Homo sapiens: one gene and its partners. Each later gene encodes a partner of the first gene's protein in a complex. Each region holds a gene or a part of one and is shown in the gene's direction. Other genes may lie near its edges.

Evidence for each region.
Region 2: PIGY (region 1) and PIGQ share a complex: the UniProt entries of both Homo sapiens proteins name them as parts of the glycosylphosphatidylinositol-N-acetylglucosaminyltransferase (GPI-GnT) complex.
Region 3: PIGY (region 1) and PIGA share a complex: the UniProt entries of both Homo sapiens proteins name them as parts of the glycosylphosphatidylinositol-N-acetylglucosaminyltransferase (GPI-GnT) complex.
Region 4: PIGY (region 1) and PIGP share a complex: the UniProt entries of both Homo sapiens proteins name them as parts of the glycosylphosphatidylinositol-N-acetylglucosaminyltransferase (GPI-GnT) complex.

The regions. Positions count from the first base shown.
Region 1 is NC_000004.12:88,520,754-88,527,648, reverse strand, and holds PIGY (phosphatidylinositol N-acetylglucosaminyltransferase subunit Y), read left to right. Parts: upstream 1-3,872; 5' UTR 3,873-3,948; coding exon of another isoform or gene 3,949-4,151; intron 4,152-5,619; coding exon of another isoform or gene 5,620-5,761; 5' UTR 5,762-5,859; coding exon 5,860-6,075; 3' UTR 6,076-6,651; downstream 6,652-6,895. Other genes in the region: PYURF (protein preY, mitochondrial precursor), read left to right, coding at 3,949-4,151, 5,620-5,761. UniProt on the Homo sapiens protein: Part of the glycosylphosphatidylinositol-N-acetylglucosaminyltransferase (GPI-GnT) complex that catalyzes the transfer of N-acetylglucosamine from UDP-N-acetylglucosamine to phosphatidylinositol and participates in the first step of GPI biosynthesis.
Region 2 is NC_000016.10:572,959-579,981, forward strand, and holds part of PIGQ (phosphatidylinositol N-acetylglucosaminyltransferase subunit Q), read left to right. Parts: intron 1-1,107; 5' UTR 1,108-1,116; coding exon 1,117-1,805; intron 1,806-2,880; coding exon 2,881-3,012; intron 3,013-3,175; coding exon 3,176-3,296; intron 3,297-5,420; coding exon 5,421-5,547; intron 5,548-5,826; coding exon 5,827-5,980; intron 5,981-6,110; coding exon 6,111-6,222; intron 6,223-7,023. UniProt on the Homo sapiens protein: Part of the glycosylphosphatidylinositol-N-acetylglucosaminyltransferase (GPI-GnT) complex that catalyzes the transfer of N-acetylglucosamine from UDP-N-acetylglucosamine to phosphatidylinositol and participates in the first step of GPI biosynthesis.
Region 3 is NC_000023.11:15,318,950-15,325,540, reverse strand, and holds the end of PIGA (phosphatidylinositol N-acetylglucosaminyltransferase subunit A), read left to right. Parts: intron 1-388; coding exon 389-521; intron 522-669; coding exon 670-876; intron 877-3,768; coding exon 3,769-4,035; 3' UTR 4,036-6,085; downstream 6,086-6,591. UniProt on the Homo sapiens protein: Catalytic subunit of the glycosylphosphatidylinositol-N-acetylglucosaminyltransferase (GPI-GnT) complex that catalyzes the transfer of N-acetylglucosamine from UDP-N-acetylglucosamine to phosphatidylinositol and participates in the first step of GPI biosynthesis.
Region 4 is NC_000021.9:37,070,064-37,077,816, reverse strand, and holds the start of PIGP (phosphatidylinositol N-acetylglucosaminyltransferase subunit P), read left to right. Parts: upstream 1-4,745; 5' UTR 4,746-4,817; exon of another isoform or gene 4,818-4,969; intron 4,970-5,013; exon of another isoform or gene 5,014-5,229; coding exon of another isoform or gene 5,230-5,301; coding exon 5,302-5,383; intron 5,384-5,506; exon of another isoform or gene 5,507-5,668; coding exon of another isoform or gene 5,669-5,672; intron 5,673-7,753. Other genes in the region: E3 ubiquitin-protein ligase TTC3, read right to left, coding at 4,334-4,388. UniProt on the Homo sapiens protein: Part of the glycosylphosphatidylinositol-N-acetylglucosaminyltransferase (GPI-GnT) complex that catalyzes the transfer of N-acetylglucosamine from UDP-N-acetylglucosamine to phosphatidylinositol and participates in the first step of GPI biosynthesis.

The DNA.
Region 1 (6,895 bases):
AGCTTATGGAAGAGCACTCCCAAACTGTTGTGGATCAGCGGGTACATCCCCATAACTGCAGCAGCCACAGAACCAAAAGAGCAAGTTGGGCTGTGCGTGGTAGCTCACGCCTGTAATCCCAGGACTTTGGGAGGCTGAGGCGGGAGGATCACTTGAGCCCAGGAGTTCAAGACCAGCCTGGGCAACATAGTGAGACCCTGACTTTACAAAAAAAATTTTAGAAATTAGCCAGGTGTGGTGGTGCATGTGTGTGCCTATGGTCCCAGCTACTCAGGAAGCTGAGGTGGGAGGATTGTTTGAGCTCAGAAGGTGAAGGCTGCAGTCAGCTATGATGGAGCCACTGCACTCCAGCCTGGGAGATAGAGCAAGATCCTGTCTCAAAAAAAAAAAAAAGAAAGAAAGAGAGAAAGTGAGAGAGAGTAAGAAAGAAAGAAAGAAAAGAAAGAAAGACAGGACATACTTCCATAATTTCAAGCTACTTGTGCCCATGCTGGGATATTCTGGTCCTTTTGCAGGCACTAGTCCTCAGCCCTTCAGACAGAATTTGTGATTATCCTTCAGATGGCCAAAACAAGGCTGGTAACATTCATGTCTAGAGTTATTTCAAAACTCCTTTGATGTTTGAAACTAGCATTACTACTTTACTATTGAGGATAATTTTTTAATATGTTTATTGACCAACTGTATTTTCTTTTTTGCGAATTTTTCTTTTCAAATATTTTGTCCATTTATCTATTGGAAACTTGATTTTAATAAACTCATCATTAAAATTTATTAATAGGACTTTTATGATTTTTGTTTTTAAAATAAATGTTGGGCTGGGCACAGTGGCTTATGCCTGTAATCCTAGCACTTTGGGAGGCCAAGGTGGGTGGACTGCTTGAGCTCAGGAGTTCCAGACCAGCCTGGGCAACATGAAACACCATCTCTACAAAAAATACAAAAATTAGCTGGGTGTGGTGGCATGCACCTGTATTCCCAGCTACCTGGAGGCTGACATGCCAGGATTGCTTGAGTCTGGGAGGTCAAGGCTGCAGTGAGTCACGACTGCACCACTGTACTCCAGCCTGGATGACACAGAGAGAATCTGTCTCAAGAAAATAAAATAAAAATAAAAAATAAGTGTTGTCAAACTAAGAAACAATTGGCAAAATGAAAGTAAGTCTTTGTAATCACAGAAAGAAAAGATCAAGCAGAGATAAATGTTAGTTCAAATACTAAATGATGCCATCTAGTGGAAAATTTATTTTGACTCATTTCTTTGGATTGCAGGTTCACAAATTTCAATGCCCCCAAATTTGGAATTGACAGGCTCTGTTAAAATACATAGTCCAGCCCCTCTTCTGCCTAGAGATTTCTAACTTCATGTGTGTGATAATCCAAGAATTGTGTTTCAATAGTATCCATATTGGAAATTAGAAAAATTCCATTTCAGTTAAAAAGAGTGTCCCAGAAGTACCTTGTGCTTTCCCTTTCCATCAGAATGTTTACTAGTTTCACCATAATAAATAATTTTATTGCTAAACATTCTTTAAATGTGTTAGCCCCTGTGCTGTTTTACTTGAATTGTTTTATTTAGTCTGTTCAAACACTGTAAGTTACATACTATTATTATTGTATTTCACAAGTGAGAAGGTTGAGGGTGAGAACTTAAGTAGCTTCTCCAAGATCACACAGCTATATTGTATCTGAGCCCAGAAACCATCAGGTTATTGTGCACAGGCCTATGTGACACGAAAGGTCAGTCATGTGAATAGTGAAAAGGGACTAACTTTTAAAAGACCAGTTCCAGTCCCATGATCCTATCCTATCATCTACATTTAGCTTAGTATACTACAGGCAGAAATGAATTGTATTTCTTCATTACTAAGGGCTATTTAGGGACATATTGCTTTGATATGTTGCAACTTAATACACACATGGTGATAGTCATACATTCATATGTTCCTTAAATATTGGTTGTTGATTTCTGGTGTTATAAATTTGAGGATGTTTTCAATACTTTGCTGTTACTCTCTATTCTTCCCCTAAATAAAGTAAACTGAACTGCCTCAAACCCTCTATGTGGAGGCAAACTGAAACTAATTTATTTATAACTGGTTAGAAAACCCAGTTGATAGAGATCTGTCAGCCAAGCTAGCTGAGGCTTAAGCATGGGTGCCTTCCCCTACCCAACAAGCGCCAAGGGTTGGGCCCACTCAGCGCTTGCAGAAGTCAAGCGCTGTTTCTCCTTAAGCAGAAACTTATCTTTCCTACAGCTCACCCCTTCCCTTGAGCCCAAAGTATCAACTGACTTCAACTGAAAAATTAATTCCTGCTACTGCCCTAGTCGGAAATAGTGTGAAGGTGACATAGGAACTTTACAGTAGTTTCCCTTGAGGGTATGTCCCGATAACTGCCCTATTCTCTAGTCCGTTAGTAACTCTAATAACGGAAAGTTATGACTGTGAAAGATTGCTTTGTGAGGGAAGGAAGGTGAGGCAACCAGAGACTTTCATTATCTCTTAAATATCTATCCAGTAGAAGTGTTTCCTTTTTGGTATCCTATAAACTACATTAACCTTAGAAAATCTTCTGAGCATTAGTGAACAAAGAACATCAAAAAATAAACTGTTTTTTTTAAAAAAAACAGGATGGCCCAAAAAACAAACAAAAAATTAGGATGAACATATAAACATTTGTCAGTTTATTTTTACATTGGAGTGGAAGAGAAATTTGAAAATATAAACATATTTTTGGATTCTGTACTTCCAGCTCCAGGAACTCAAAGTGTGAAATGATAATGCCCAGTGATGCAAAAAAAAAGTTCAGGTTGATATTCAGCAGAACGGAGGGAAAAAATGGATGACTAATGAGAATCTTTGAGTCTTCGGACATGGAAAAACTAGATGAACTAAAAATAAAAATAGACAACATTAATGGAGCATTAATTTGTGCCAGGCACTTTTCTAAATGTTCTTCGAATGCACAATCACATTTATGCCCTACCTACAAGGTAGGTACAATTATTAGTCTTATACAGATAAGGAAAATGAGCAGTTAAGTCATTTGCCAAAGTCATCCAGCTACTAATTGTGGACAGGGAACCAAGCTGTCAGGCCCCAGAGCCCAAGTTCCCATCTACTACACTGTAAGAAAGAGATCTAACATGGTCACTTTCTTGGAGAGTGGGAAGCAAACCTGGGATACAAATTCACTGAATGGATCACCCACTCATTGAATGGATCTTTAACAGGCAGATCACATCTGCCTGTTACACAGCTATTTAGGCCCCTTGCGGCCTCCAAGCTCATTTATAGAAGTAAATTAGCTGTGCTTTATTACGCAAATACTTCACAATGACTGGGTCTCAGGCAGGAAGAATTTATATATTTTGGAGGGTCAGAGGCCTAGGCCCTTCCTTCCAGGTTCTCACTTTTTTTAATGAGAGAGAAAAAAGCCAAACAAGGTTACAGAAACTAATGGTATAGTAAAGATGTACATGAAACAAATGAGCGCTTTCAATACATCCATGACAATACATTCGGTACAATACATAACAGTGTGTTTGAAACTTCACTTGGAGGTAACCACGTAGGTCCAAGCCTAACTCCCTACAACTCTGAGGCCTGGCCACTGGCTTCCTAGCATCCTTGGACAGGCCCCGGTGAAAACCCAGACACCTTGACTTAAACACTGGTTTAGTTTGTAGTCTGGTAAGGCGGCGGGGCACTCACCAGAGGCCTCTGCCCTGGGGCTGTCCTCCGGACTATAGATGACGCCCGTGGGAAAAGCAGTCGGAGCAGAAGCACCCTCGGAACCAAAGCGCCCGCCCCGCCTACTCCTCGGCAGCGTTTCCTGGAGGACCAGGGGGCGGGGCCTGCCCGGCTGGCCTGGACGAACGGGAAGCCGGGAGCTCGGCCACGGGTGGCGAGGCTGCGGTGAGGCCTGGTCTCCGGCTGCCAGACCATGCTGAGTGGAGCACGCTGCAGGCTCGCCTCAGCGCTGCGGGGAACGCGCGCGCCGCCGTCCGCGGTCGCCCGTAGGTGCCTGCACGCGTCGGGGTCGCGGCCTTTGGCCGACCGGGGCAAGAAGACTGAGGAGCCGCCCCGCGACTTCGATCCGGCGCTGCTGGAGTTCCTGGTGTGCCCGCTCTCCAAGAAGCCGCTCAGGTAACTCGCTGGCCTTGGCCCTTCCTTTGCAGCCTCCCGGTGGGCGGAAAGGGAGCGGTGGACCGCGGCCTCTTGCAGCCACTGGGGCCTTGTAGGTCGGTCAGGTACTCTCCGCTGCCACATTCTGGACTCTGTCCTCGCCGGGCGCACAGCGGGCAGGACGGGGGAGACCGGAGGCCAGGGGAGCTGCGTCCCACATCTCCCAGAACGCAACGCCAGCCTGCGGGAATGGCTCGAAGCGTTTTAGGGTTCGCGACCGGCTGCGCATTGCAATCACCCGGGGACCGTTTTAAAAATGCCGATTCCCCGACAGCCCCCAAGACGGGCAGACTTGGAATGCTCGCGGGATGGGACCTGAACATTTGTATTTTCTTTTCCTTTTTTTTTTTCCTTTTAAGAGACAGGGTGCCCCCTACGTTGCCCAGACTGGCCTAGAACTCCCGCCTCAGCCTCCTCAGGAGTCGAGAGACAGGCGCCGCCCCCACGCCCAGCTTATCTGTGTTCTTAAACGGTCCCTAAATGATTTCTAATGTACCACCAGGTTTATGAACCACTGCGATTCAGGACAAGTCCGAAGCCTTCCGGTTTTTAAGCCAAGATAATGAAAAGTATTGTTGTACCCTCCAGATTCTTGTGAAAGTGTCTTGTACAACTGGTGCCTGACAATCTTAAGCAATTCAGCTGTGTTTGCTGCCCAGTGGCTCTTAGTTGTGGCCTAGCAGGTTTCGTAGAAGCCTCTTTAACTAGTTTTTGGGAAGACAGCTCTACAGTTTCCAAGCTACCAAAATTGAATATTGACAACACTAACGCTAGTATTACAAATCGCATAAACACCAAAATGTTATCAGTGGTTATCTTTGAATGGTAGATTGCTAGCAATTTTTCGTATTTCTTTTTCCCGTAATAAACATATTATTCAATTTTCTCGAACCTTGAAATTATCATTTGATTTACGTTTATAACTAGCTCACTGCAGACTTAGTGCTTTCGAAAGTTTCTTCATTTCTGCCCTCTCACCTTTTCCAGTGATTTCCTTCTAATGGATTAGTTAAGTTTCTCTACTTAGCATTTATTCTAAAATGAAGAAGTTGATTTTTCTCTAGTGTTTATTCCAGTAGTAAATTAACAGGGATGGTTTGGGGGTTGACCAAAGTAATGAAGGAATATTTGGATAAGAGAGGGGGATCTTTTCTGACTAGTATGAAAAAAAATTAAGGAATAACTTGTGAATAAGGTGAAAAAGAGAATATGAGAGAAACTACTAAAATGGGAATAATTATAGATTGTAAGAGAATTTTTCTAAGATAAAAGGTTGAATTGGCTATTGTTGCTTTTAGAATTAAAGAAGACTATTCTGGGATTAACTCCGTACCAAAAATTGGATAAATGGTGGTATTTGTTGAAAATCAGGCTCTTCAAGCATTTTATTTTCCCACAACTCATTTTGTTCTTTTTTTTTCCACCTCAGATATGAAGCATCAACAAACGAATTGATTAATGAAGAGTTGGGAATAGCTTATCCAATCATTGATGGGATCCCTAATATGATACCACAGGCAGCTAGGATGACACGTCAAAGTAAGAAGCAAGAAGAAGTGGAGCAGCGCTAGTTCATAATTTAAAAAAATTAAAAAAACGCAACAGCCAACTTTTCTTAATACCATATACCTTTTAAAACACAGTGGCAGGTAATAAGTGGAAGAGAAGAATGTTTCTGTCTCTTCCTACGTTGACTGTTCTTATTCCACTGGTTTCTTTAGCAGGACTGTTCTACTCAGCCTCTGTGGAAGAAAACTTCCCACAGGGCTGCACTAGCACAGCCAGCCTTTGCTTTTACAGCCTGCTCTTGCCTATTACCATACCAGTGTATGTATTCTTCCACCTTTGGACTTGGATGGGTATTAAACTCTTCAGGCATAATTGATGCAACTAGAGTCAATATGCTGTATATATTAATGATAGCTCTTGGGCATCGATCTCTGAAAGCTCAAATGGATGGAATTTAGTTTGCGGGAAAGAGGCTTTGCTTTGCGCATATCAGGCTTAGGACTGTGGGAGGCTTAAGTTGCAGATGCTTCTTTTATTGTACTCTTGTTCTGCCCTTGTTTTTTGAAGGCTCTGACTTATAACTGCTGTATCAGAAGAAACATTTTGACAGTGTCTTGGTTGGAGATGAACATCCCTAATTGACATGTGATGACTATTTCTTATTCCATTCATCTAAGAGTCATTGAAATTTTGTTTTGCTTGTTTGTTTAGCTTCAAGGTCTTTGGTAAAGTCACATGTTAAGGATGACTGAAATAATTCCAAAGGAGTGATGTTGGAATAGTCCCTCTAAGGGAGAGAAATGCATTTGAACGAATGTGATATAAAACCACATAATCAAATAGAAACTTCATGTACTTACAAAAACTGAGTTTGTAAAATTACCTTCATTTCTTTGACATTAAATGCTTATATTAGCAATAAACATGTTGACACTTTCCTATAAAAAATAAACCAGTTTGCAGTAGTCGTTTGTTTGTTTGGTCACAGAAGTGTTAATGATACTAAGGGAAGTTGTAAAACTGCACTAAATGTAGTTGTGTTTAGAGAGGTACTTAATACCCAAAACAGAATCATTTCCTGGGAAAGTGAGGGGTGGGAAGACTTGCAAGTAGTGGATTGTACCCTGTTGAGCTTAGAGCCATATTTGAGCCACATTTCAGTTTATTTTCCCAGGATGCCGAATAACACCACTAAG
Region 2 (7,023 bases), on another chromosome or scaffold:
AGGCGAGATGGGGCTTTCTGTGTCTGAGGAAGGCGAGCGGCCCAGCCAGCCGGCCAGTAGTGCCCCCACCGCTAGGGAGTCCTCCTGCCCTGTGGGGCCCCGCCAGGGAAGGCATCAGTGGAGAAGGAGCCCCAGCTGGCTGCATGGCTCCGCAGGGGCCTGTGAGAAAGGGGGAGGAGAGGCCCAGGGCCTGGGAACCGCGGTAGCTCAGGTGGCTTCCTACTCAACAGCCACCTTGGAAGGCTGGTGTCCCTCAGCCTGAGAGTGCAGGATGCAGTTTCTCCACACCTCCGGGACCTGTAAGCCTCTCTCTCCCCGTTTCTAGGCACCCATGTCGTTGGAGAAATATATCCTGGAGAGAAAATGCTCCCTGAGGGAGCCCTGCCCTGGGGTGGCTGTGGGGATGTCAGGGAGGGCCAGGCACTGCCGGGTGCCACCGTGGGCGGGGGTCAGAGTGGAGGCCGAAGCCCTGTGTGCCCTGAGCAACGAGGCAGGTCCTTCCTGCCCCCAGGGAGGGGCTTGTGGGAGGCAGGGACCTTCTGGGGGGCTGCCCGCCGTGCGCACGAGGTAGTTTCCACAGCCCAGCAGCACATCATTTTACATTTTCATCTTTATTCTTGCTTAATACGTGAATCATGGTTTGTCAAGGTTTCAATTGGCGTGACCTTGCTAATGAGATTGTACAGTTCTCCTCGTGCTACACCTTTAAGCACACCTCTCTAATCAGGTTTCTTAAAACTAAGAAGCCTGGAGTTCGGTTCGGCCCCACAGCCGCGTCAGGTGGTGCCGAGGAGGCCGTGCCCTGGGCCGGCCTGGAAATGGGAGGGCAGGCCTGGTGGCTGCATGTGCGTCCTGCCTCGTGCGGGTGGGGCTGAGCTGGGCCTGGGGTGGACTTGGGGCCAGCACTCTGGCTGCCCCTTGGAGAAGCATGGCCCACGCGAGGCGGCAGCCAAGGAGCCCTACGGCGTCCACCACCGAACTTGAAGCTGAGGTGCCCCGACCTGGGGCCCTGTGGCTGCACCTGTCAGGCCGTCTGTGCAACATCCCGCAGCCCACGGTGGGGGGGCAGCAGCAGCTCTGAGCCGAGCCTCTCCTCTTCTCTTCCAGCCTCCCGGCATGGTGCTCAAGGCCTTCTTCCCCACGTGCTGCGTCTCGACGGACAGCGGGCTGCTGGTGGGACGGTGGGTGCCGGAGCAGAGCAGCGCCGTGGTCCTGGCGGTCCTGCACTTTCCCTTCATCCCCATCCAGGTCAAGCAGCTCCTGGCCCAGGTGCGGCAGGCCAGCCAGGTGGGCGTGGCCGTGCTGGGCACCTGGTGCCACTGCCGGCAGGAGCCCGAGGAGAGCCTGGGCCGCTTCCTGGAGAGCCTGGGTGCTGTCTTCCCCCATGAGCCCTGGCTGCGGCTGTGCCGGGAGAGAGGCGGCACGTTCTGGAGCTGCGAGGCCACCCACCGGCAAGCGCCCACTGCCCCCGGTGCCCCTGGTGAGGACCAGGTCATGCTCATCTTCTATGACCAGCGCCAGGTGTTGCTGTCACAGCTACACCTGCCCACCGTCCTGCCCGACCGCCAGGCTGGAGCCACCACTGCCAGCACGGGGGGCCTGGCTGCCGTCTTCGACACGGTAGCACGCAGTGAGGTGCTCTTCCGCAGTGACCGCTTTGATGAGGGCCCCGTGCGGCTGAGCCACTGGCAGTCGGAGGGCGTGGAGGCCAGCATCCTCGCGGAGCTGGCCAGGCGAGCCTCGGGACCCATTTGCCTGCTGTTGGCCAGCCTGCTGTCGCTGGTCTCAGCTGTCAGTGCCTGCCGGTAGGTGTCCCGGGACAGGCAGGTGGCAAAGAGTGGGGTCCCATGAGTGCTGGCCCATCCCTTTGTCTGCAGTGGGCACAGAGGCCCAGATGCGCTCTTCCTGGGCCCGGGCCCCCTCCCACTCCTGCAGCCCGGGCTTTGGCCCCATCCTGCTCTCCCAACCCTCGCCTCTCAGAGGGTGTCCCTCACCCCTGGGGTAGAGCCAGGTCTCTGGGCAGCCTCAGGGATTGCCAGGGGCCCTCCCAGAAGGTGTAGAGGGTGAACCTCAGTGGCTTAGGTCCCTGAAAGAGAAATCAGAAGGTGAGCACAGACATGACTACTGCTGCCTGGGGGTGCTCCTGAGGGCACACAGGCCCGCTGGCCTCCCTGTAGCCCTGCCTGTGCCCCCAGCAGGCCTCTGGACACTGCAGCGCTCATGGGCTGTGGGGGTGTCATCCACTTGCTGGCCCCGTGTGCCTGGGGGAGTGGTCTACAGGCCCTGCTTCTCTCCACAATCACAGGTGCTGCTGGCCAAGGGTCAGTTGAAGCCCAAGGGCCCTGAGGGGCACGGGGGTAGCCCCGAGCTGTGGCTGAGAACAGAGGGCCCCCTTCCACAGGGGACCTCATCTGCCTGGCGGAGGTGCCCCATGGGGAGCAGCTAGGGGTCACCTGCAGTTGCCCCCTGCCTTAGACCCGGGGGTGCATACTCTGGAAGCCTGGGGTGAGAAGCTAGGCCAGCCCAGGAGACCCCGGGCAGCTTTCTGGGCCCTGTCGGCGGGGCGAGGCCCTGGGCCCGTGGGAGTTGCTGCTGGCTGGCAGGCGCTTCTTGGCACCGGCTCTGGGAGCATGTGGTGACCAGGTGGCCCGGGGTCAGCACCTGCGAGGAGGCCAGGCTCCGTGTTAGTCACGTGCACTGTGAGGTGGGCGCGTTGAGCGCTGCCTACCACCACCTGGGCCACCGAGGGCCCCTCCCACCTGCCCCCTGTCCTGCTGAGCTCAGGAGTGTGGCCTGGGTGTTTGTGGTCCCCTGCACAGTGGGGGACGGTGGGAGGAGGATCTGGAGAGGGACACATCACTCCTCTCCACTCCCACGCAGAGTGTTCAAGCTCTGGCCCCTGTCCTTCCTCGGGAGCAAACTCTCCACGTGCGAACAGCTCCGGCACCGGCTGGAGCACCTCACGCTAATCTTCAGTACACGGAAGGCGGAGAACCCTGCCCAGCTGATGAGGTGTGGGCCTGCCCTGGTCTCTGCAGGGCTGGGTGCGTGCCCTCTGGCCCCTTCTCCATCCCCCTCTGCACCACGCTGACCCCTCCGGCCAGGCAGGCCTCCTCCTGCGGCCCCAGGCTGTGCTGGCCACCCTCATGCCGGCCGGGCCGGACCTCCCTTCCAGGAAGGCCAACACGGTGGCCTCTGTGCTGCTGGACGTGGCCCTGGGCCTCATGCTGCTGTCCTGGCTCCACGGGAGAAGCCGCATCGGGCATCTGGCCGACGCCCTCGTTCCTGTGGCTGACGTGAGTGGACTGGGGTGGAGCCCGGTGTCCCGGGTGGGCGTGGGGACCCCTCCTGGGCAGCAGAGCCTTCCCGGGCCAGAGCCACCGCCCCACAAAGCCAGTTCTACCTTCTCCATGCTCTGGAGACACGGCCCTCCCCTGAACCAGAAGCAGGAACTCCAGGGGCGCTGGGGCCTGGGCAGGGCAGGCCTCGCAGGTACACCCCCCTTTCCTTCTGAAGGGGCTGTGTGCAGGAGCCAGCCGGGCTGAGGCTCTGGGGAGCCCGCCTCTCCCTGTGGGCCCAGCGTCCTGGTATCTCCCTTGTGGTCCCTGAGATCAGCGTTGCCCTCCTGGCTCTCTGGGGCCCTCTGCAGAGCCAGGGTCATGAAACCTTTCCTGTCCAGGGAGGCCCATGTGCAGCCCAGCTGGGACTTCCTGCCCTGCCCCTGTGCTGATTCTGTAACTCCTGTGCTGAGAGCCAGAGGCACAGCTTGTCTCCCATCTCCCACCTTCCCTGCATGGTCTGTGCCCCGTTTCCAGCCGGGTGCAGCCCCCTCCTCTGCAGATCTAGTGCATTTCCATGCTGCCTCTGGGCCTTCAGCTTCTCTGTCTTCCTCCCTCAGCACCAAAGCCCCGTCTCTTCCATTAGGAGCTTGTCTTCCTGCTGGGGGTGGTACCTGACTCTTTGGCCCACCCTCGGGCCTCTGTGGAGGCCTCCTTGAGGCCTGACTGGGTGGGTCTTGTGTGGGCTGCAGGTGTGCACTGGGCCTGCTTGTGGCCAGGCCAGGCCTCTGGGGGCAGCATCAGGCACGTCTGTGTGGCTGTGGGGGTGCAGGGAGCTCCAGCCCAGAAGGAAGGAGGGGCGGGGCTGGGGAAGGGGCTCGGCAGCTTTGCCTGTGGTCGTCCGCACCTGCCACCGGCCTACTTTGTCCTAGACCTCCCTTTTGCAAAAGTGCTCAGAAATATAAATATTTAATTTAAAAATGAAAGTCTCTTCCTGCTGCCAAGCTCTTATCCTTTAAATATTAAATAAGCTCTATTTATAAAGAATGTTCTTTTCTCAGCCGGGGGTGGTGGCTCATGCCTGTAATCCCAGCACTTTGGGAGGCCAAGGCGGGCGGATCATGAGGTCAGGAGATCGAGACCATCCTGGCTAACACAGTGAAATCCCGTCTCTACTAAAAATACAAAAAATTAGCCAGGTATGGTGGTGGGCACCTGTAGTCCCAGCTAATTGGGAGGCTGAGGCAAGAGAATGGCGTGAACCCGGGAGGCAGAGCTTGCAGTGAGCCGAGATCTCACCACTGCACTCCAGCCTGGGCGACAAAACAAGACTCCGTCTCAGAAAAAAAAAAAAAAAAAAGTGTTCTTTTCTCCTTCTTGCCAGTCCTGCTGTGGCTGAGGCCTTGGCCCAGGCTTGGAAGGGGCCTGCGCAATGGGCAAGTGGGGGCCAAGGTGTCACTCACTGTCTCCTTAGTGGGGAGGCTGAGGCTCCCTTGGGGTCTGCCCGCTGGGGCACAGCCTCTGGATGCTGAGTTTCTTCCTGGGCGGCCAAGACCCTGCTTCCCTGTTTGCTCTTGGGGGTGCCTGTGCCCTCAACTTGACGCCATCCTCCCTCTGGGGACCTGTCCTCCTGCCTGGTCGCTGTGGCCCTGATGGGCTTGGCACTGTCTCGCTCACCTGTGGTCATCCCGGGCAGCCCCCAGCCTCTGCGATGGGGTGGGGCCTCTGGAGGGGACTGTGTCAGCTGTGGGCTTCCCTGCAGGGCTGGAGCCGAATCAGGGTCTGCCAGGCCTCAGTGCGTCCACGTGTTTGGGGCCGAGGGCTCCAGTGGGTCCTGTGGCCGAGGTAGTGAGAGGGGAGGAAGATGGTAGAGGTGGGTGCAGGCAGGGGGCCACGCGGATGCCCTGTGGGCCCGGCCATGTCACCCAGGCCTGCAGAGAGAGGCCTCCAGACCAGCCTCCTCAGACCCCAATCCCGGAGCCATCTGTGAAGGGGAGCCCGTGTGCTGTCCACGCTAGGACGCGGTAGACCCTGGAGGAGGGAAGGCTGGCCAAGGTGGGAGCCCATCACGAAAGAGCCTGGGGAGATGCAGGTGCTGAGCCTGGCTGCCCCCGCCCCAGCGTGGCCCCTGTGTCCCTGCAGCACGTGGCCGAGGAGCTCCAGCATCTGCTGCAGTGGCTGATGGGTGCTCCCGCCGGGCTCAAGATGAACCGTGCACTGGACCAGGTGCTGGGCCGCTTCTTCCTCTACCACATCCACCTGTGGATCAGTGAGTGCAGGGCAGGCGGGGGCCCCAGGGACCCCAGAGCTTGCTGAAGAGGGTAGGGACCCAGCCAGACCCCGCCCCCTGTGCCCCCAACTCTGCTCCCCAGCGTCCTGTGTGTGTGAGGCCTGCTGTGCTCAGCTGAGGGCTGGGGCCTGGGCACCTCCCGAGGGCTGACCCCACCCTGCCAGGCTACACGCACCTCATGTCCTGTGTGTGTGAGGGTTGTGCTGGGCCGAGGGCTGGGGTCTGAGCGCCTCCTGAGGGCCTACCCCACCCTGCCAGGCTACATCCACCTCATGTCCCCCTTCGTGGAGCACATCCTTTGGCACGTGGGCCTCTCGGCCTGCCTGGGCCTGACGGTGGCCCTGTCCCTCCTCTCGGACATTATCGCCCTCCTCACCTTCCACATCTACTGCTTTTACGTCTATGGAGCCAGGTGGGCGTGGGCTTCCCCCTCCCCACCGCCCCCTGGGAGGTGCAGAGGCTCCGGCTGGGCGGGCGTTCGAGTGGGGCGGGGGCGGGGCGGGGCGGGGCGGGGCCGGGCCCGACAGCACTGCGTCCTGTAGGCTGTACTGCCTGAAGATCCATGGCCTGTCCTCACTGTGGCGTCTGTTCCGGGGGAAGAAGTGGAACGTTCTGCGCCAGCGCGTGGACTCCTGTTCCTATGACCTGGACCAGGTATGGGGCAGGGTTCGTGGCTGGAGGGGCTGACTGCCTCCGGCCTGTGCCCGCTGGGCCAGCGCGGTGCTTGGGCACCACAAGGGGGCAGCCTGCTCCCGTCCTGCAGCTGAGGCCGCGCACAGGCCCTGGGAATAGATAAGTCTGCGGTGTGGGCTGCACGTGGGGCTCTGAAGCAGCGCAGAGCTTCCCTGGGCCACAGAGAAGAGACAGACACACAGCCCCGAAGGTGGTGCAGGCACAGGCCCTAGAGGTGCCCCGGGCCCAGAGACTAGAGATGCCCCGGGCCCGGAGACTAGAGGTGCCCCGGGCCCGGAGACTAGAGGTGCCCCGGGCCCGGAGACTAGAGGTGCCCCGGGCCCGGAGACTAGAGGTGCCCCGGGCCCGGAGACTTGAGGTGCCCCGGGCCCGGAGACTAGAGGTGCCCCGGGCCCGGAGACTAGAGGTGCCCCGGGCCCGGAGACTAGAGGTGCCCCGGGCCCGGAGACTAGAGGTGCCCCGGGCCCGGAGACTTGAGGTGCCCCGGGCCCGGAGACTAGAGGTGCCCCGGGCCCGGAGACTTGAGGTGCCCCGGGCCCGGAGACTAGAGGTGCCCCGGGCCCGGAGACTAGAGGTGCCCCGGGCCCGGAGACTTGAGGTGCCCCGGGCCCGGAGACTAGAGGTGCCCGGGCTCGGAGACTAGAGTTGCCCGGGCCCGTCTGCTGCTCACACTTGCCGCAGCCGCTGGATGCTGCCATGCAGAGCATGTTCTTGGTGACTGTGTGGCCACGCACCGTCTTGGGTGGTCTGGCCCCCACCTGT
Region 3 (6,591 bases), on another chromosome or scaffold:
CTTCCTCAGTAACTTACACAACACAAGGCTTGTACGTGTAAAGCATCAATTTTAATAAAAAGGCCATTTTCCTGTTTACAAATGGCACTTTAACATTAAATTATCAAAGTTTATTAATATTATTACATACAGACTAGTTTTGGAGAAGATAAAGTTTGATATGTGTAACAAAAGTTAGAAATAATGTTCGCTGTATGAGTTTTAACCCAACTGCTTTATAAGGCTGTTTCTATTAGATCAGTGTTTGGTGATACTAATCTTGAGGTGGAGAACATTAGCAGCAATAAGAATTTAAGTGTAATATAAATAGCAGACTTGGTTTATAAATTAAATTTCTTTTGTAGCATGAGTTTTCACTCCTTTCTTCCCCTCTCATTTAAAAAATCAGGGTGCGTCTTTTGGGAGCTTTAGAACACAAGGATGTTAGAAATGTCTTAGTTCAAGGACATATTTTTCTGAATACCTCCCTTACTGAAGCATTCTGCATGGCGATCGTGGAAGCAGCCAGTTGTGGTTTACAGGTAAAAAGCTTTGAGGGCATTCATGGTTGGGATTTCTGTGTATTTTGAAAAATAATGAGACACATTCCATAATAATGTTTTAACTGGTTTTGTTGATCTTCCTGAGGTATGATTATGGTGGAGTATGTGTTCTTTCTTTCTTTTTAAGGTTGTAAGTACCAGAGTTGGTGGAATTCCTGAGGTGCTTCCAGAAAACCTTATTATTTTATGTGAGCCTTCAGTAAAATCTTTGTGTGAAGGATTGGAAAAGGCTATTTTCCAACTGAAGTCAGGGACATTGCCAGCTCCAGAAAACATCCATAACATAGTAAAGACTTTCTACACCTGGAGGAATGTTGCAGAAAGAACTGAAAAGGTATGTCACATGCTGAGAAAAGATTGTGTCTGAACTCTTACTTGATGTTTCACGTACACATTTGCTTTTTCTTACATAGATGTTTACCATTTTTGTTCTATTGCTTAAGTTGATGAAATCTCTTCCAGGTGAAAAGAAACAGATTTTGGTACACACACCGGGCTAAGTGTCTGGTCAAATTATTGCGTTTGACATTTGAAAATAGCAGTAATACAGTCTAGCCCCCTCATTAAACTGGGCATAAAGAAGTTACAAAATTTTCTAAAAGTCACAATGAGTAGAGACAAGACGAGTATTAAATCTACTCTTAGATATTTTCTTGAAGCTGTTGATAATTCTAAAGCAAACATCTCTATTAGGAAATGCATGGTTTTGCTGATTGCAGCAACTTTATAACTTGTGAATATTTAATTCAGGCTACTTCCTAAACCTCTTGTAGCCCTTTTGCTAACTACTGTGATTTTCTCCAGGAAAAGGATTTTTGCATCTTTGGGCTGATTGAGAACATAGTAAGTTAGAATTCAAAATGTACGTGACAAACGTGGGAAAAATCACAAATAAAAAGCAGCAACAGAGAATTTCCAAAAGGACAGGTATAGGAAATAGATTAACACCCTTAGGTAGGAGATTACAGTTGTGGGAAATGCTTCCTGAATTTGAATTAGGGACTGCTTTCATTCTCAGTTTCATCCTTTACGTCCTTTTCATGATGTTCTCTGCCTCATGCCTCTTATTACCATGTAACAAGCTGAACAGAAACAACTCAGCTTCTTAGTATGTAGAAATTGTGAACCAGAAAGATAACCAGGTGGAACATGGAGAAGGTAGTAGTTTAGAGTAATGCTACCAACGTGATATTCAGTGGAGCAATGAGTTTTTAGCCTAGAGTAGATAGCAAGTTGGAGCTGAGGAGAATAGCTCTTTACTGTAAGGCTTTCTTACTTGGTTTGAATGATGAATTCCAGTATATAAGATGAACTCATATGTGAATGGAAGTTCTAAAAACTTATCTCTAAAAATTGTCTTATACATTTTCCATTGAAACATGAGATGTTTGCGACAGTCAAACATTTTTGACTGAAGCATTTTGAGACATTCTGACCTTCTACAAGTCTTGTACTATCTCTCCCATATGAAACATGGAAAGTTGGAGTCTAGTGCTTACCTGTTGGGAGTACATGTCAGAGTCCCCGGGCAGCCTTTTCAGACTCTCTCTACTCCATCTTGATGTCCCCCTGCCTCCCCAACCACTCCCTAGATTCCAGTGTTATCCTTTAGGAGCAGAGATAGAATTGGGGGTATAATTGGCAGGGATATTTGGTCAGACAGGTTATTTTGATGATACCATCCTGATCTCCACTCCCTTTGAGAACCATGGCACTGTTAAGTTGTGACTTGACCTTCTTCATTGACATCGTATAAACCCCAGAAGCCTGAGCCACTGTAGGTAATAAGTTAACAGGGAAAGAACTGTGGTGACGGTTTGTCAGCATATAGTAAAGGGGCTAATTGGGATTTTTTTGGTAACCACATTTTTCTTTTGGTTAAAGTAATAGTACAGCATCTGTATTTTTTTTAATTCTATGGTGATTTATAATACACTTTTAGAAAAAAGTAAATCCTTGCCTATAATGGATTGTCATCGCTAACATTCTCTTCATAATAGTAAATTGTTATTTTATCACTTAAAACTATAAGTAGATTAATTGACCTGAAATAAAGCTGGACAAAAAAGTCAGTTTGTAGTTACTCTTTTAACCCTATGACATTTTAATTCATTTCAACTCCTCCTTCTTAGTTTAACTGTGCTATTTAGGAAATCGATCATGAAATTAATTTGGAGTTCATGCTGTAAACATACTTCTTCAATTGCAATTCACCAGTCTCAGCATAATTCTCAACATAATTCTGATTAAAATGTTTGTATTCAGAATGTCCTCAGGGTAAAAGAGCTCGATGAAAACATGCCGTACCTTTCAAGGGCTGTTGACCTGTACAACATGCACTGCATGTTATAACTTCCTTGAGTTCAAAAGGAGACGGTTTAAAGGTCTAATATATGAGACTAAGCACAAGTAATACTCAAATTACAAAATATGAATGTTGGCCCATTTGATGTGTTCTGAACAAGTATGTTTAAAGATCTTCGTTTTTTGATATTTTAGAGCTTAGTACTTAGCAGTGTTTTAAAAAGCAAGCCACCTACTTGCTCAGCAAAAAACGTTATTTCATTTGCCAGCATTTGACCTATACTATCTACTGAAATTTCCCCCATCTCTTTATCTTCTTTTATTTGAAATCCATGAAATGCTTCTGCATGTCCTCACCATCCATGCTCAGCAACATGTACAGCCTCATGTGGCTGTTGAAAGAGGAGGCTCTGTGTTCCCAGAAGTATGCTAGATTGTAGCTCTCTGCTTGTGGTTGATGTCTGCCAGATGCCGGTGAGAGCATCTCAGCTTAGTCAAGGAATCTTCAAAGGCAAATCCTGCTTCAGTACTGCTGAAGTCACTGCTGAATTAAATATTGACCCTACAGTGGTGACCCCAAAAGCTGTTCAGACTTTGCGGGACTTTGGAATTCTAGTAGTTGGCTAAAATTGATGGTGACTCCCTAGGGGAGAGGAACTGTGGCTTATTCTTTGTATCACACAGCCTCTAGCCCGGTGTCTTGCCCAGAATAAGTACCCAATAAGTTTTGAATCAAATGGCAATAATTATCGTGATTAAGTTCATTAAGGATATCATTACTATGACAACAACAACAAAACACAAGCAACTTTTGTTTGTATTTGTTTATAAAATGTTCCTGCAGGATCGGGTCATTGTTTATCATGGGACAGGTGATGGGGTGATGGGTGAAAGTGCTCACACTTGGCTTCTCTCCCTCCAGGTATATGACCGGGTATCAGTGGAAGCTGTGTTGCCAATGGACAAACGACTGGACAGACTTATTTCTCACTGCGGCCCAGTAACAGGCTACATCTTTGCTTTGTTGGCAGTTTTCAACTTCCTCTTCCTCATTTTCTTGAGATGGATGACTCCAGATTCTATCATTGATGTTGCAATAGATGCCACTGGGCCACGGGGTGCCTGGACTAATAACTATTCTCACAGTAAAAGAGGGGGTGAGAATAATGAGATATCTGAAACCAGGTAGAAGGAAGCCTAGATTGTAAGATTTTAAACATTTGTAATAGTTCTATAAAGACTATGGAAAATAACCTTGCTTTTGGGGGGTTTTTGTTTTTTTAGAGTTAATTTAGTAAGTTATGCTACCTCTATATCATTCAATATTTTCTGTTGAGGAAAGATAAAAATGTATGCAATTCCTGAGTGTAGAAACTTCTTGCACTTATTTAAAATTTAGGAGAGAACATTTAAGCCACTCAGGTATGCAATTTTTCAGACTACTGAAATCCCTGTAGCAGAGATGTTTTAACATTATATTTTGAGAGCTTTGGGTGCTGAAGGGCCAAACGTTTTCTGGGCATTTTTTGGCCAGTTTTTAATGTAACACCATTAGACACTCACCAGATGTTTACAAGTTTTCTTTAGGGGAACTACAACAATTATATGAACTGTTTTATATCATGTTCATATACATTTATTAGGAATCTAAATCATGTCTTTGAACATTTATTAGGTTCACTCAGTAGGTGTTACATGTAATTAACAGGTTCCTTGAGTAAGATAGTCCATCAGTTACCAGCACATTTTGAACCCCTGCTCTGTGTAGAATGTTGAACTAGATGCTTCCCGCCATTAAGGACCAGGGGTGCATTCACTCTTTGTTTACCATTCAAATGGCTTACTTCATCATAATTGTGGTTGATATGAGATCAATATCCAACATGCCAAAAATGCTCATGCCAGTTAATGCCAGGAAAAAAATCACCGACACACTACTAGTACTTTGTTCCTGTTGTATGCATTCTCCTAGGTAGAGCCTCCATCTTCAGTTGTGTTTGTGAAGGTATTTTTTGCTTTTTAAATACTGGGGACCGATATCACTGTTGATAGTGCAGAGAAACCCTCCACATTTTTCAGTGCATAATTGAGTTTTCTATAAATGCCTTCGTGTTTTCTGAGCAGAATGTACGAGGTGTGCCATCCCAAAACCAGCTGCTACCCTGTCCTTTTAATGTAAGTCACTCCCCTTCACTGTGGCCTCGCTGATGTCTGATAAGTATTGTCAGTGTGCAAAAGGCTTTACTTCAGAATGGTTTATTTATAGCAAACTAAGTTGAAAATTTTAGAAACAGTCTTTGTGGGTGGATGTTATTAACTGTCATTGTTGTTGCCCAGAGCCATGGGTTTTTTAACCCCAAATTATCCACATGGTGTGTATTATGAATTCTTTGAACTCTTAAGGTTTTTGTGAGAAAAGGACTGTGAATTCAAAACAATAAGGCACTTGTGGGTGCACTACATAGATTCTGACAGTGTTGTGATTCTGTATAGGATTTTTAAAAATGACAACATTCACAAAATTTATTACTTTTTAAAAAATAACATGCCTATTAACTGGTTGCACTGATATAAAAGAAATATATTTGTGTTTTGTTTGTACTAAAATGCAAAAGCAAGAGTGCAATTTTTAAAATCTAGAAGTTAGGGGTTTTGTTGGAGAAAAATGGACTGATCTTTAAACTATTCAGTCTTACTGGGATTTTTATGCATAGAAACTCACATATAAACATGAAATAAACAGTGCCAGTATTCATAGGAAAGTGAGAAACTGTAATATTTGGCCATTATTCTATTCAACAGGTTTTAGAGGCATGCCACCATTTTTTCCTTATATTTTTGCTTAATTTTTTTAAATTGTCATTTAATTCTTAAACTGTCATTTATTTGAGATGGAAATAAGATCTAAAGTTAGTTGCCTTTGCCTGTAAAACATGTGATTTGCAAATTATTATTTTTCTTTTTTTTAACAAATGGAAGTAAATTTGTTTCACGTAAATCTTAATTTTCAACCTTTCTGGATACCTTAATTGTAACTGTCAGTTTGCACTGGTCGGTATATGGAAACACATTGCTCTACCCTGCTACTTAGTTGATTTTAAAGTGAATTTACAGTGATGAGAAATTTGTGAAAAATATATTGTATTTCTTTTGATGTTTCAAAAGGTTGCCTATGAAAAACTGATTTGTTAAAACATGCTACATGTCCAAAAATAAAGACCAGAATGACATTTTGATAATTTTCTGAGTTTGTCTTATTTTATGAACAGACTATTATTTACTAGTGGAACAGGCTATCCCTGCCCCCGACACATTCTTTTTCAGTGCAATTTGGATGTGTTGCTTGGTCTATTAGTAAAACAAGAAATACCCTTTGGGCGATGAATTACTCTGTCATTTTTTGTTTCTAGAATATCTTCTCTCTCTCACTCATGGAATAGCGAGTTCAATTGTGCCTTTGTTTCCTTACCCAAATAAGCCCTTGTTTTTCATTGCCCTAGCATTATCACGTGAGACAAGGAAAATATCTACAAACTATACTGTGTATGTGAGCTACATAATTATGCTTTCTACTTTGCCCAACACAAATTTGTAAACTTTCTTAAAACATTATGAGACTTGTGATTTTCTTTCTTTCTTTCTTTCTTTTTTTTTTAGCTCATCAGCTATTAGGGTATTTTCATTTATTTATTTATATATTTTTGAGACGGAGTTTCGCTCTTGTTGCCCAGGCTGGAGTGCAGTG
Region 4 (7,753 bases), on another chromosome or scaffold:
TACAACGCACATAATCGATGTTACCAGTTTTAAAAGACAACTCATCAGAACAAAGGGTAAAATATATGACTAGATATTTCATAAAAAGGAAACAAAGACAGTTCATAAACATACAAAAGATGCTCAATCTCATTAATAACAAAAAATGCAAATTAAAACCACAATGATGCATCATTTCATACCCATTCCATTGGCAAATATTAAGTCTGACAATAACAAGTGTTGGAGAGGTTGTAGATCAACTGTAACTCTTACACACTGTTGATCAAAGTATATAAACAGACAAAACTGCTGGCCAAAGTACAAACTGATACAACCCCTTCAGAAAGTAATCTGACATTATTTTGTAAAGCTGATCATTCATACCCCTTGATCTAGCAATCCCATTTCTAGCAAACAGCTTACTATAGTGATACGGCAGTATTTCTTTCTCTTTTCTTTTTCTTTTGCTGCTGAACAAATTAACATGGTGGTATTTCAACCTTTTTTTTTTGCTCGCAAACCACCAAAAGTGCTTTTTAAAATTGCATACCCTTTACCCATTAAGATGACATTTAAAAAATATCACCATAAGATTAAATAATTGCAAAGGGTGAATTTCTAGAACATCACAGTAACATTTTAAAGTAAAACTGATTATCTCATTCTTTTAAATGTATAATTATTACCAGCATATGGTTGGCCAAAAAATATACCCTGATAACATAAAAAAAAAAGCAACTTTATTGGAAATATCTCTCTTAAGGAAATGGATGGGGAAGTGCCAGGATTAAAAGAGGCTTTCCCTAACACTATAGTGGTATTTTAAATTATCCCTTTGTAGGCCAGGCGCGGTGGCCTGTAATCCCAGCACTTTGGGAGGCCGAGTCGGGCAGATCACCTGAGGTCAGGAGTTCAAGACGTGCCTAGCCAACATGGTGAAATCCCGTCTCTACTAAAAATACAAAATTAGCCGGGTGTGGTGGTGCGCGCCTGTAATCCCAGCTACTCAGAGGCTGAGGCAAGAGAATCACTTGAACTTGGGAGGCAGAGGTTGCAGTGAGCCGAGATCGTGCCATTGCACTCCAGCCTGGGCAAAAAGAGCAAAACTTCACTCAAAAAAAAAAAAAAAAAAAAAAAAAATCCCTTTGTTTTCCCCAAGGGAGTTTTCCCCCTTTGGGCAATGCCATAGTAAGATTCCACAAGAACCTGTGGTTTGCCTGTCTTATGTAAAGTGCAATGTTAGAAACACAAGGTAAGAAAGTAGCACTAGCAGGAGGCCTCAGGCATTACCATTTTTAGGAAAGAGTACCTATGGAATGTAATGATCTAGAAACTGATTCATTAACATCATTTGTACCCACACATTCCTTAGCAAATCTTCATTACTCCTCTGGGGCTCATATACCCCAGTGTGAAAATTAGAAAAATTCTTACAACTGTGAACCAAAAAGTATATAACTTCATAACAGCAAAACCTAGAAACAACCAAAATGCCCATTAACAGAAGAATGCATACACTGTGTTATATTCACACTTGGAATATTACACAGCAGTGAAAATTAATGACTTACATCTATACCCAATATTAGTAACTCAGAAACATAACATCAAGTGAAATAAGCAAGTCCCAGGAAACTATACCCAATATGATTTTTTCCACTCAAAAACAACAGAAACCATACAATACATTTTTGAGGGATGTATACATATCTGATAAAATTATTTTTAAAAACAAGGCATAATATACACAATTCAGGATGGTAGTCACCTCTGGAAGTAAGCACATTCAATACTGGTCATTTTGATTATTGGATTGAGTGGTGAATTCATAGGTGTTCATTTTATTGTTCTGCTATACAGCTTGCATATGTTTTACATATATTTTGAATTTATCAAATACTACAATAAAATGGAGAGGAAAAGAAAAATTTTTTAAACATTCATCATAAGAAAAAAAATACTTTTAATTAAATCACCTCACCTGCCACTAAAGAGGTACATATTTAACATATCATGGAAATTCTATCTATACATCAATCATAGGATCTGACATACATTAGGTATACAACAAATGTTCATTGGAATTAATCTTATGAGAACCAAAGGAGATAAAGACTAAGCCAATTAGCTATAAGAGATAAATCCATAGGCTGACACAGGGCTACAAGAGAAGCCAAGGTGGCTACAAGCAAATTTAGCAGCAACCAAAAGTCATAAGGAAGCTGGTCAGTAAAGAGATGGCAAAAATGTAAAGTCTCATAACATAAAGTGTTAGCAGGGTTGTGAGGAAATTGTGTTCTCACTCAACACCAGTGACAGTGAAAATTGGTACAACCACTTCGAGAGCTTCTGTGATACTTGGTTAAATTGAAGACGCACATAGCCTACAATCCGGCAAATCTACTACTTAGGTGTACTTCCTACAGAAACTTCCAAATGTGTGCACAAGCAGACAAGTACAAAGATATTTATTGCAGGACTGTTTTTAAGAGTCAAAAACTGAAACAAGTTCAAAGTCTATCAACAGGGGAATGTATAAATAAATATGGTATATTCATACAACGCAATTCTATACCAGCAATTAAAATGAATGAACCAAAGATAACACAATCATTCAATTTGTTCATATATAAACCTCAAAATATGATGCTGAGCAAAAAAAAAAAAAGCAAGTTGCAAAAAGGCATGTATATTTTAATGCCATTAAAGTTTAAAAACAAACAATAATATATATTGTGTATGGATTCACCTTGATCAAAGTATAAAATATGCAAAGTAAAGATATACACAAACCTCAACGCAGTGGCTATCTCTAGAAAAGGAGGGGAAGGAACTGAGAGCAATTTTATTTCTTTAAAAAAAAAGAGTATCTGAAGTAAATTTGGCAAAAGATTAAATAATCACGTCTGTAAAATCTGAATCATGGATTGGTTAGCTCCCCCTCTGTATTTGATATCTGAAATATTCCAAAAATTAAAAGAAAAAAAGGAAAATTAGACAATAAGAAAATTGGGCAGAACAAAGACACCAAAACGCAGCCCTTGAGCGCAGAGCACGAAACCTTGAGCAATCGGAGCAGTAGCTGGGTCTCTAAGGGGTTTGAAGTTTCTTACCCTAGGTATCCTTATACTATATCCCATTTTCCTTAGGATAAATCGCAAATTTCTTGCAACAAAAAATGTCCTAACTAGAGTCGTAGTTATAAGGAAAAGGCTCTCTCCGGAGGAGTAAAATCTGTAAAATTTCTACCTTGTTTCCCTCGCCAGGATCTTGGGCAAAATGGAAAGAGATTTAGGTGAATGCCATAAAATACTCTATAAACCATTAAATATCATCAAGAACGCCTAAGGACCGCATCGCCCAGTAGGAGAGTGCATATATTTTGAAAGGTCTCTGCAACTGAGGGGGTTTTGGCGTCCAGGGCGCCACTGGAAAAGGCACGGCGCACTGGTACCAGCCCAAATTCACCTACGTCTCGGCTTCATTTTTTATCTTTGATCCCCCTATTCTGTCTCCTGAACAGGCTGGCTGAAGAGGCCACACTGGCAGCGTCAACACTGCGGAGCAGCTGGCCAGACTCGATCCTGTCCACCCCCCTTCCCATTAGCGTCTGTGGGAGAGAATGCTCAGAAAGAGGCGCGGGGGCGAGGGGAGCGGCGAGGTTACCCCCCTCCTGGGTCCGTTCCGTGGGGACAGGCCCTGGACTGGACTGCCAGTTCACACGAAAACAGGTGGCAACAGAGTCGTGACACGCACACACAGCAAGGGGTGTGCACGAACGTTCACGCTCACCAACGAAACCTGCACACAAGAGATACCCACTCGACAGAATTAAATCCGCACACAAGAGATCACGCACTCAACAGGACCCATGCGCAGACACTCTGCGTCACTCGGAGACACGCAAGGACGCACACTTGCGCGAGCAAGGCTCTAGGCGGGGGTCGCAATTGCAGAAGGCGCGGCCACGCGCGCTAGGGGACGCGCAGCCCACAGACAGGGGCAGTAACACAAAGGGGGGCCACCTGCAAGGCCGAGAGCGCCCACGCAGCCGCCAGGGAGCGCGGACACCGACACAAAAGGGGCGACGAGGCGACACGCGAGCGCCTCCACCCAGCGGAGGTGTCAGCCACGCACCGGCCGAGGCACGGGCAGCGGGGGGTTGCGCACAAAGGGACTACTCACACCCTCGCACCGGCATCCCAGGGCCTCGCTCGCGAAGGGGCACCAGACCAAGGGGGCAAACCCACTGGGGTAGGCAATGGCGGCCACACCCCCTCATCGCGCGGGACCCAACCCATGCAGACACAGTAGGCACCTCAGCGAGGGACGCGAGGAGACGCGCACACACCCACACTCACCACACACCCACGGAGGGGGTGTGGAAGGCCCCGCTCCCCCGGCATCTCGGCTGCAGCGGGACAAGGTGACACATCCGGGAGCCCGGCAGCGCGCCGGGTGTGCACTCACCCGGGCCCGCCGCCCGCGAGCCTCGGACGCGGGCAGCAGCAGCAGCAGCCGCCGCCGCCGCCGCCGCCACCTCCGGCCCTCCACGTCAGCCGACGGCGGGAGGGAGCGGGTGGCGGCGTTGAAGCGAGGTGCGTCACGTGGGCTGGCAGCGCGCGTGCGCAGTCGCACCCCACCGCCCCCTCCTTCGCCGTCGCGAGCCGCGGGATCACGCCCGCCCCCGCGCTCGCTGGCTCCCACCCGGGGAGGGTCGTTGTGCGCCTGCGCCAGGGTGGGGGTTGCCGTCGCGCCTAGGCCTTTCCCTCAGGTTTTCCTCTTCCCCACTGCGGCTCCCCAGTCGGCGCTTGCGCGGAGAACTCAGCGCTGAGGTGGCCGAGGTGTCGGGAGGGGCCTGGGTGGGCGTATGAAGGACCCGAGGTCGAGGGCCCCCCCATACCCCGCCTCGAATGAGAAATAGAAGTCTCCACGAATGGGCAGGGCCCGGGGCCTGGGCGCCGCGACCTAGTAGGCCCGCATGCTGGTGGGCGCCGCGCGAGCCTTGTTCCCTGCCCTCCCCTCCCACAGGGAGGCCACGCTTGCAGAGCTGGAGCGCGCGTCTATCGCCCCAGAACCCCCCTCCCTGCCCTATCCTCCGCCACCCCTTCTGTTGCGGGGCGCGCGCCAGCCTGGGTGTCTGTATGCGCTCGAGGCGGGGGCGCGGGTTGCGGACGGAGGCGCGGGAGGCGGTTCTGCGCGGCGGGGGCCGTACCCGCGGCGGAGCGAGGAGGCGAGAATGGATCAATGGTGCCACGGAGCACATCGCTGACGCTGATTGTGTTCCTTTTCCACAGATTGTCTAAAGCCCCAGGAAAAATGGTGGAAAATTCACCGTCGCCATTGCCAGAAAGAGCGATTTATGGCTTTGTTCTTTTCTTAAGCTCCCAATTTGGCTTCAGTAAGTACTTTCCTGATGGATGGCCAGGGGCTTTTTCTGGCGTTCAGTGACAAGGGAAGAATACATTGGTTAGACTGTGCACACATGAACTGTTGATTCTTTCTCCCTATGTCTCTTTTTAAGAAAATCTGAAGGGATCTCGTGTTTGCTGAGTGTTCCGTGTGCCAGCACTAGCCTAGGAGGTTTTAGTCTCTACAAATATTTATACAGCACCAGACGCGATGGCAAAGTGGATAAAGCCTGGTCCCTGCCCTTAAGGAGGTCGTGGTCTTGTGGAGGAGACAGATGGGTAAATCTACAGTTAATGCTCAGTGTGATGAGTGTCAGGGAGCACGGTGGAGAGACATTGAAACCAGACTGGAAAGTCAAGGCTTTCTACAGAGGCCTTTCCCCCTGGCACTGATGCTGATTAGGAAAGAGTAAGAGGGAGGGAAGAAGTGGAAAGGCCTTGAATGAGGGCGTGAGAGGGTTTGGACCCGAGGAGCTTGTGATGTCACCAGTGTGCCCTGCGGGATCTGGGGAACAGGAGAAGTAGGCCAGAGAAGTCGGGTTGAAAGGTGTGTCGTTTGCGTCCTGGATCTCCCTTAATTTAACCCCATAACATTCCATTTTACAGATAAGGAGACTGATGCTCACTAAGACACTAATATGCCCACTCACACAGCAAGTCCCAAGTCTCTCCCCAAAATGATTTGAGAATTTTGAGGCACACAAAAGGGAGAAAATTGAGTGCCCGTGATCCAACGTTCTGCAACTGTTTGGAAACCAGGAAAGTGGAGGAGTGGTAGTACTTCTGAACCCTAACTAAAATATATCAGCCTGCACCATCAGCACAGCTTGCAGATGAATGTAATGGCCAGGCTATTAAAACTGAAGTGAAGTGAAGAAGTTACAACTGAGTTCGAATTCTGACTCCTCCACAGATTAGCCATGTGAGCTGGGACCCTCAGCAAATTTTTTGAGCCTCAGGTTCCTTATCTGTAAAAGGGTAGTGATAATGATGGTTATTAAATGCTTATGACGCATGAAACAGTTCTATGGGGTAGGTTCTGTTATTACTGTCCTTTAAAGATGAGCATCCTGTGGTTTCAGTAACTTGCTCAAGATTGCAAAGCTACTAAATAAAAGCCTTCTAAATTTGAACCCAAATACACTGGCTGACTTCACTCTGCTGCCTCTTCTGACTGTTGTGAGGATTAACGGGGGTAATTTATGTAAAGCACGTAAAATAATGCCTAGGAACAGTTAGGGACTTAATAAGTGTTAGCTACTGATGTTATTGTTAGCACTTTTGTAAATCCTTGTTCAAAGAGTATGTCAAGGATTAGAAGCTATATGAATAAATAAAAGCAATCACTTTAAGGCTTAAATTCTGGCCGGCCTGGTGGCTCACGCCTGTAATCCCGGCACTTTGGGTGGCCGAGGCAGGCAGATCATCTGAGGTCGGGAGTTTGAGACCAGCCAGACCAACATGGAAAAACCCTGTCTCTACTAAAAATACAAAATTAGCCGGGATGGTGGCGCATGCCTGTAACTCCAGCTACTCGGGAGGCTGAGGCAGGAGAATCGCTTGAACCCGGGAGGCGGAGGTTGCCGTGAGCTGAGATTGCACTTTTGCACTCCAGCCTGGGCAACGAGCGAAACTGTCTCAAAACAAAATTAAATTCCATCATACCCACAACCAAAAAGTAATTCAAGTATTTATTGGTGCTTACCATGTGCCAGGCACTGTTACAGGCCAGGAAGGACCAAAACAGCCAAAAATGCCCTGCTTTGAGTCTTCATTCTCATGCCGGGGGGAGATAGTCAATGGGCAAGTTAAATAAGAAAAACGTATATAGTATCAGGTGATAACGTACTATGGGGAGAAATTAAGCAAAGGGAAGGAGGATACGAAGTGGAAGGAGGGCCTTCTAATGTGCTTCTATGTCATCTTTTATTACTCATTCGTGAGCACTTGTAACAATGTAGTGAAAATACCAATTTTCTCTATTCACCACTAGATTTTAAGTTTAGGGAGGGCAGAAGCCATCTCTTTTGGATTCAATATTGTGTCTCACACACCTGACATACAGAATTCTGTAATACATATTTGTTAAGAAAAGAATGCATCATCACTGATGTAGTAGGTAGTTAAAATTTATCTTTGCCGCTTACCTTGGGTAGGTGATGTATCCTTTCTAAGCTTCCATTTCCTCATCATTTAAAATTGCATACTTGCCTTGGAGGATTGTCTTGGAGGATTATCTTAATGCATACAGAATGCTTGGAACTGTGCTTAACCCACAGTGAGTGCTCAGAACTTAGCCATTGTTGTTATCGTGGGATAACAGTAAAGAGTGCCGAGATTTCGGATTGAGGGAAATAACA